Regions from separate parts of the Homo sapiens genome. Here region 2 is linked to region 1. Evidence: fine-mapped expression QTL. A gene starts in region 1. The other region holds a variant in brackets. All regions are shown on one strand. Distances are from middle to middle.

The links. PIP is the estimated chance that this variant, and not a neighbour inherited with it, causes the effect.
Region 2: its variant is fine-mapped to the expression of LTF in whole blood (TOPMed, PIP above 0.99).

Annotation. Positions count from the first base shown.
Region 1 is chr3:46,462,907-46,467,298 of GRCh38, forward strand. LTF (lactotransferrin) reads right to left here and starts at 1,999. Exons shown (of 17, transcript NM_002343.6): 1 at 1,919-1,999. The coding sequence starts at 1,961.
Region 2 is chr3:46,421,226-46,425,617 of GRCh38, forward strand. LINC02009 (long intergenic non-protein coding RNA 2009) reads right to left here and starts at 2,442. Exons shown (of 5, transcript NR_151704.1): 1 at 2,320-2,442; 2 at 1,460-1,573; 3 at 148-267. The variant T/C (reference allele first, on the strand shown) is at 2,076.

The DNA of each region.
Region 1 (4,392 bases):
GCAATGACGGGAACCTGTGGGCAGAGTTCATTTCTTCCCCTAAGAGGAGCTGAACCAGAGTGACTAAAGGACCGCTGAGCTCCCTTCCAGGATTCCCAGTCCCCAGCCCCCCAAACACCAGGTGAAGTCTCCACGCTCTTACCTCCCAGCTCTGGAGCTGTGTGACCCACAAGCTCTTACCTCCCAGCTCTGGAGCTATGTGACCCCCTGAAGCAGGTCTAGGTCTGGCCCCTCCAAAATCTTCAACCCCACACTTGTATTCAGTGTCAGGCACTCAGATGCTGCCCACTGGACCTGGCTGGACACTGGCCAAAACACACATTCTGGGCAGACATGCAGTGCGCTGGCCTCCAAGGCAGGGGCCAGGACAGGAGTTACTCTCCCCACCTACCCACACAGCTCATGATAGGGCCCAAGCAGACTGCTCAGACTGATGGGAAACCTCATGAGTGCCTCCCAGCCCATGGCTCCAGGGCTAAGCAGACAGACTCCTCCACCCAATGCTCACACGGCTTAGATCCAGCTGGCCCCACTCACCCAACTTCTGTCAGCCTGGACACCCACGGGGAGCAGGGCAGGAATTCCACAGGGCAACTGCCACCCTTTCCTCAGGAAGGACAAGGGTTGCAATGGCACTTTGGGGTACAAGCCACCATCCCAATTGACTGCAGGATTCAAACTTCAGACCTCAGTAGGCGCCAAAACAACTAAAGATCCAAGTGAATATAAAACCCAGTGGTGCAACTCTGAGCCAGAATCCTGGACCACAGCCCATGACCACTTCCAGGAAGGCAAGGCTTCCTTCCTCTCCTGCCCCTCCCAGGTGGCCCTAACCCTGTGCAACAGGCCACTCGCCAGGGAGCTTGAGGGGAAGAGAACAGTCGGGTCCTGGCCAGTCCCAATCTGTCTTAGAGAAGAGAAGGATGACCAACACCCATGGGAAGGAATTTGGAGCAGGAGACCAGAAGGGCAGGGACAAGGATGGGTTTGGGCTCCCACTGCTGCTCTCTATCCACCGCCACCTCTTCCATCCAGGAAGCTCCCAGCCTTAGGTAGATGCCGTAAGACAAGTGGAGGCTGCACTGGGCTGGGGAGGTGTGACACCTGGGCTTTCACTGTGCCCCTCCCACTGCCTAGGTCCTGATGCCCATCACAGCCCTTTCTGCTGCGGCCTGGGACCTTCCCCTCCCGGTGCTGCAGGGAGCTCCGCACTCACGCATTTAGGTCACTAATGTGCAGCGCTGGGGAGTGCCCTCTGAGCACCCGAGAAATTACTTTGGTTATGGAACTGACAATTGTTTCCTTCCTTCTACTCCTTCCTTCTGTTTGGCTGACATTTCCCTCTCAAACCCTCTGACACAGGGTTCCATCAGGAGCACCGCACCCCTCCACAACCCTCTGCCACGGAAGGTGTGCGAATGCCCCATCTCCTCCTCACAACCCTGTGGACCCATGGTTAGGCCGTTTCTTTAAGTGAAGAAACTAAGTCTCATAAAGGCTCGGTCTTGCTGGGGTCTCACAGTCCTCGCAGGAGCTAGGATCTGGACTAGGGTCCTTGAGCTAGTCGCTCACCCTCTCTGAGCCTCACTTTCCTCCCAGGTAAAACGCATGTCACAATACAATGGGGACCAAATCCTTAGGCGGGACACAAAGGGACAGGGGCCTGGGAGGCCTTTTGAGAAGCTCTGAGCAGAGCTAGGCGTGCCCCGATCCGGCTTGAGGAGCCCAGCTCCTGTTCCTCCCCATGTGGGAAAGAGACTGGCCCCGCGTCCGGGCCGCCTCCCGGCTGTAGGCGCTGGGACCGCGGGGCGCAGAGACCCCGCGCCCAGCCAACCGGACACAGGGACCAAAGCGCCTAGCAGACAGGGCGCAGGAGACGCCCATCAGGCGGCTCGCGCCCCCAGGCACCTGCACTCACCGAGGGCCCCGAGGAACAGCAGGACGAGGAAGACAAGTTTCATGTCTGCGGTCTGGAGGCGACTTGGCAAACGAAGGCTCTGCCACTTGCGCCTGCCCTGCGCCCCTTTATTCAGGGCTTTGCCCCGCCCTGTTGCCCAATAGACACCCCTTCCCTCCCCACTCCCCGCGGCCAGGTCTACTTGTTCCTTGAGGATCCAGGCTCCGAAAAGCCCTGAGGCAGGACAGGACTCCACACCGCGCTGCGAGAGGAAAGCCAGCCTGCACCTCACCTGTCCTGGTTCTGCCTGGCTGCTGCGATGTTCTTTCTCTCCCACTAGTCTGCAAGCCCCTAGGAGTCGCAGCCCCCTGAGCCCTGTCCCAGCTCTGGTCTCAGTGCCTTCTAGAGGGCAGGACACAGAGCAGAGGGTCTTTACTTGAAGATCGCCTTGACCTGTGAGACTGCTATCTTCTTCAGCAGATGACCTTGAAGGTGCCTAGGAGCCAGTTAGGGCAGGTGGATTTGCTTTCACCTTGGCTCAGCAGTGAGCTGAGAGTTGAAAAGATGACCCGACCACCCCCAGCAGCAGCCTAGGGACAGCTGACAGAGAAAAGAGAGGCTGCCCAGAGTCTCAGGCAAGCTGCCCATGGGGTATCTCCCTGCCCTGCTGAGACCCACAATACAGCTCCCAGAAAACAGACAGGGACCTCAGAGGGGAATGGCCACCACCCAAGGCTGGTTCCATGTTCTTATTTGCCAATGAGAAAGATGCCCTATGGCTAAGATGCCCTACCACTTTTTTTTTTTTTTGTCTTTTTTTTCTCCATCTCCTCCTTCTTCTTTTTTGGTGTTGATAGTATTCAGTAGGAAATGGTAACCTCATTTTAACAATCGCCATAAATGTCAGATTTTAAAATTCAAAAGCTAGAATACTGCTTCTAAGAATACATCTCGTAAATACATTCCCATGACACACAGCACCCCAGGTACAAATGTTTCCAGGCACCACTGCATGCCATTAATCAGTTGGAAGCAAACTAAACATCCATCTCTAGGGGAGTGTCACATACAGCATGGTGCCTGTGGGACACATTGGGGGCCTCAGAAAGAATATCCTGTGTGTATGGATGTGAACTTAGCCCAAGAGTAACTAGGCAGGGCACAGTGGCTCATGCCTGTAATCCCAGCACTTTGGGAGGCCAAGATGGGAGGATCGCTTGAGCCCAGGAGTTCAAGACTAGCCTGGGCAACATAGGGAAACCCCCATCTCTACAAAAAATACAAAAATTAGCCCAGCATGGTGGTGTATGCCTATGGTCCCAGCTACTTGGGAGGCTAAAGTGGGAGGACCATTTGAGCCTGGGAGATGAAGGTGGCAGTGAGCCATGATCATGTCACTGCACTGCAGCCTGGGCAATAGAGTAAGACTCTGTAACCCCCACCAAAAAAAAAAAGGGTAACTAAGTGAAGAAAAAAGGTACTAACAGTGAGGGAAATAATAGGTCACCTGAACACCTTTCTTGGCAGGTGAGTCTGACCAATATGTGACTCTGAAATCTGCTTATTCTGAAAAGCTGGTCTTGACTCTGCTTAGACTACTTGGTACTAAAAAGCATTTCCTGGAGCAGATAGGCAATGCCCCAGGGAGCCAGCTCTGCCAAGAGTGAGCATGCAGTGGGCACCTAGCCATGGAGAAGCAGGCTCAGCCCAAGGTGGAGAGGCCATTAAGGAGGCTGGGGAGCCCCTCCATTTCTGGGCATGATCCTGCCAAGGCACAGGGTGGAGGCTAATCAGGGATCATGCTTGCCTGCCATGAGACTGGGGTCTGAGATTTGGTGCTAGAATCACCAGCTGGGTTTTGGGGTGACAGATCCAAGGTCTCTCATTGTTTGGAAACATGATATTGCACCATTTAAAGTTGCCATCATCAATAATTGCAATAAGTTCTTTCAAAAATACTGAAGAAATACAAAATTGACTAATTCCCAGGAGTGCTGAAGCATCTTTGTACCTAAATTGGCAACAAGACTTTGCCTTTTCATCATTATAAAAGAATTAAGAAACATCATAACCCGTGTCTCTTTTTCTGAGTCCAAATTTTAAAAAAGGATGACTGGGAGGTCAGAGGGCCCTGGGCCCTCTTAAGTATGTTACAGTGTTGGCAAGAACACAGAGAACCTGGGGCCACTACCAAGAGGCTCAGCTTAAGGAGTGCCCTGAAGGCAGCATGGGTAGGCAACAGGGCAGACTGTTTTCCTGCTGTGCCTGTTGGAACAGCCCAGCCCCAGGGCAGGGATGTGAGCATCTGGACACAGGCAGAGCAGCCCCTCAAGGCCATTTGCAGAGGAGGCTGATGTAGGGGATGAGTCTGCCCCAAAAAACAATGAAGTTTCACTGATCTATTAACAGCATTCATTCATTCATTCATTCATTCATTCATGCCAGAACTGGTAGATGCCATGAGAGACAGAGAAGAGGGGTCTGTCCTTGCCCTC
Region 2 (4,392 bases), 42 kb before region 1:
ATGGTTTTATCATTTGAGCTAAATGAGGCAGGAATGTCCACCAATATCCCAGGAGGCTCACAAAAGTTTGCAGCTGCCTCACCGTGGTGGGCCAGGGATATGCCTAAATTTTGTCAATGATAGCCTCTTGTATGGCCTTCATCTTACCCGACCAGATAACTCCCAAGAATTTAGCAGGTAATCCAGGCCCTCGGACCTTGGATTTGTTGATGGCCCAACTGCATGCTGCCAAATGTTGCCACAAGAGGGGTGCCACTGCTTCTAAATCTGCAAGAGAATCAGAGGTTAACATAATATCATCAACGTAATGGAACAAGTGGACTCCCTTTGGACATTTTCAGGCTGTTAAATCCATGGCAACAAGACCATGACATATGGTGGAGCTATGCACATAGCCCTGCAGCAACACTGTGAAAGTCCATTGTCATCAAGGCAAACTGTTCCTGGCTCTCTAGAGCAAGGTCAACTGAGAAGAATGCATTGGCCAAGTCCACCACATAGTGGTACTGTCCTAATTCCATTGTCGAGTGGTTCATCAAATCCATGATAGATGGCACAGCTTCCAAGCCATGTAAAATATCCACCTCCAGAATGTATTCAGGTATGGGAGAGACATACACAGTGTATAAGCAAGGAGCCAAGTGGCCAATGCCAAGGTACAGAGATACAGGTTTCACTTTCACTGACTGGCCTCCGTAACCTTTAATATATGCAGATTTGCCCAAAAACTTAACTGGGTTCCCATAAACAAGGCTACAATCTATGCCAGTATCTACCAGCACCAGCACCCACTGTACATTGGTGGGGGACCAGTGGATTGCCAATTCCACATGTGGCCTCTGGTCATCTGGTGTCCCCCCAAGCCAGACACCTTTGGCCAGTTCCCTAGTTGAACAGAAAAGGCTCTACATTTCCACCTGGCTGCAGCAAGTAGTCTCTGAGCTGGGTAGGACCAGGTCACACAGCAATGCCTTTCTCCCCTTTGGGCATTTTCCGGAATTGCTGCCCTGCATACAACTGTCTCCGCAAAGTTAGGAGTATTTCATTGGGCTGCTTATCAATTTTCTCTCAGTCAACCCCAGCCAAAATCAAATCTATCCACATCTGTGAGCGTGTCACTCGTTGGGGCCCCCTTTTTTTATGGGGGAGCCCCCTGTGGGTGGGGTAACTTCCCCTTCTTTATGGTGTGGACCCTCCAATCCCCCTGAAGGCCTTCTGCTTCCCTGAGAGCCGCCATGGCAGTGGTTACTTCATGTATGCGGTGCCCTACGTATGGGGTGAGGACAGCAGCTAGGGAGCCAAAGGGGCTCAGGAGCATCAAACCCAACATGAGATCCCTCATGTGGGAGGTGAAACATTTATCATCTGGCCCTCAGGTATTCAGGACAAACATAGCCTGCCGCATACCCATCTCCCGAATGACTTACACCAAATTGGCATATGACTGCCATTTACTCACAGTTTTGGGCATTTCACCAGCATTATTCCACACAGTTCATATGGCTGCCTGTAGCCACTCAGTCAGGGTGTGGTCTCCTTGCGCTGCCACTAACCACCTGCTCACTTGCAGCCGCTGACAGAGAGAGGGGTGAGTCATGGTGGAGGCCAGCTTGTCCATCTCAGAGGTGGAATGGGAGATACCATCTGCTCCCTTGTTCCACAGACGAAGCATCCAGGCAGGCAGGGGTTCCCCTGGACACTGGCAACACTGCTTGCCTAATTCCTGCAACTCAGTTGGGGTACAGGCAATATACGAAATGTGTTGCATTATGGTGGGGAGTCCCTGAGTCCACCCTTGGAGCCCCAGTGGCTGTTCATGATCTACCTTCTGTCAGACCACCGGGTGAGCCCGCAACAGGGGTTCTTCCTCCTTGGTATGAAACTGAGTGGGGATCTCCAGACAAGATGATGGACCCAGGCCTGCATTCATGGTAGCCTCTAATTCCTTTTCCAAGCTCTGAAGCCACACCTCCAGGCATCCTGCCTGCACCTGGAGGTCCCCATTCATGGCAGCCTCTAATTATTTTCCAGATCGGTGTAGCCAGACCTCCAGTCTGCATCCCTCAGGGACTGGG[T/C]GTGTACTTTTCTTAGCACAGTTAAAAATGCCCATCCAACTCTGCCAGCAAAGGCTCTCTCCTTCTTGGTGCTCTGCACTTCCAGCTGCTTCAGCGCCTTCTCCATGCTCATGGGGGACCCATCTACTGCCACCCAGGTTTCCACTCAGGCCCACCCTCACAGCACGGCTACCACCGGGTACCACAACCCATGTTGTGGTCACATGGCCAACCTGGAATCAGCAGGGACCGAAGGCTCACTTACCTTAGGATCCTGTTCGTGATGCCAATTGTCAGGTTCTAGCCCAAACTAAAGTCCAAGGGGAGTTGGTGGGTGGGTGGCAGGTAACTGGAAAAACACTCGAGTAGGCGGTTTCGACATGGCTTTATTCTCTCTCTGGGTGCAAGCCATATGTAGTGTCAGCAGGGTAATTTTACCTTTTACAGACAATAGTGGCTTTGAGCCAAGCACGTGCTCATATGAGTGGTCACCTAATGCACCTCACATGGCATGGTTACATAATGTGTGGAGTTGTGTGCCTGCCTCCAAACCCACTGAGTCATGCTGCACCAGAAGGCTGCCTCGGCCTACTCCTGACTAAAGCACAACCATCTCCCTTAGAGTGGGCTAAATCTACTGCTATTTATACTATTAGAAATTTTAACACAGAAGTTTTAAATATTTACATTGTTAATTGATTTTGAAATAATAAGCCCATTACAGGTTAACATAATTAACATACTTTTATTAAAAATATCTGTATTTTTTAAAAGAAAAAAAATTAGCAACAACAGTGATCCTTGGAATCGTCCCACCTCAGCCTCCCAAGTAGCTGAGACCACAGGCGCACATCACCATGCGAGCTAATTTCTATATTTTTTGGTAGAGATGGGATCTTGCCATGCTGGCCAGGGTGGTCTCGAGCTCCTAAGCTCAAGTGATCCTCCTGCCTCGGTCTCCCAAAGTGCTGAGATTACAGGTGTGAGCCACCACTTCTGGCCAGAAGCTGGATTCTCTGTCTTGTTCTCCATCCAATCTGTTAGACTGTCAAATGCCAAATAACCTTTGGAAAATTCTACTCGTAAAATAAGGAGAGAGATAAATAACTTCTGAGTATCATCATTAAAATAGTTTGACCTCATGGACCCACTGGGTCCCATGTGGAGAATAGCTCTAAGCTAAAGAGTAGAATGGCTGGGAGGGGACATAAACATTCAGCCCATAGCTGCTGACCACAATAACACATTTTAAGTCTCTTCCTCTCCTGCTCCTTGTGATTGCAGACAGACTCAATCTGTAGGAGAGCTGTAGAGAGAACAAGCTCAAGCCCCTGATTTTGCCTACAAAGAAAGCTGAGCCCAGCAAAGTTAAGGGACTTACCCAAGGTCACACAGCCACACAGCAGAGCTGGGGCTGAGCTCCAGGTGTCCTGCTACAGAGGCCACTTCTTTCTCCCACTAGGGACTGGCCTGTGATTACTTCAGAAAACAATGGTCAGCTAACTGATTCTGAACGCCCTTTGCTGGTAAAAGCTAATCTCCTGAGGAAAAATGTATGCATTGGCTGGGCGCAGTGGCTCAAGCCTATAATTCCAGCATTTTGGGAGGTGGAGACAGGTGGATCACTTGAGGTCAGGAGTTTAAGACCAGCCTGGCAGTCATGGTGAAACCCCGTCTCTACTAAAACTACAAATATTAAGCTCGGCATGGTGGCAGGCACCTGTAATCCCAGCTACTGGAGAGACTGAGGCAGGAGAATCGCTTGAACCCAGGAGGCGGAGGTTGCAGTGAGCCGAGGTCGCACCACTGCATTCCATCCTGGGCAACAGAGTGAGATTCTGTCTCAAAAAATAATAATAGTAAAATAAAAATAAATAAAAAAATAAGTATGCATCACCTCAGGTGGTCAGTCAGCTTTCCCAAGACCCCAAAGCACACAATGTTCTTTCTGGTATGAGTGACATGGGGTTCACAGCACCACAAAGTCCATGACTTTTCCCTCAGAAGTGAATGCATGGCTAATTATTTTGTATTTTTTGTAGACATGGAGTTTTGCCATGTTGCCCACGCTGCTCTCAAATTCCTGGACTCAAGTAATCCACCCACCTCAGCTTCCCAAGGTGCTGGGATTACAGGCATGAGACACCGCATGACCTGCACCTATAGTCCCAGCTATCAGGAGGCTGAGGTGGGAGGATCACCTGAACCGGGGAAGTTGAACCTGCAGTGAACTGTGATCGCTCCGGTGCACTCCATCCTGGGCAACAGAGTGAGATCCTGCCTCAAAAAAAAAAAAAAAGTGAACACACATGCTGGGGAAGAGGCCTGCAGGCACCCC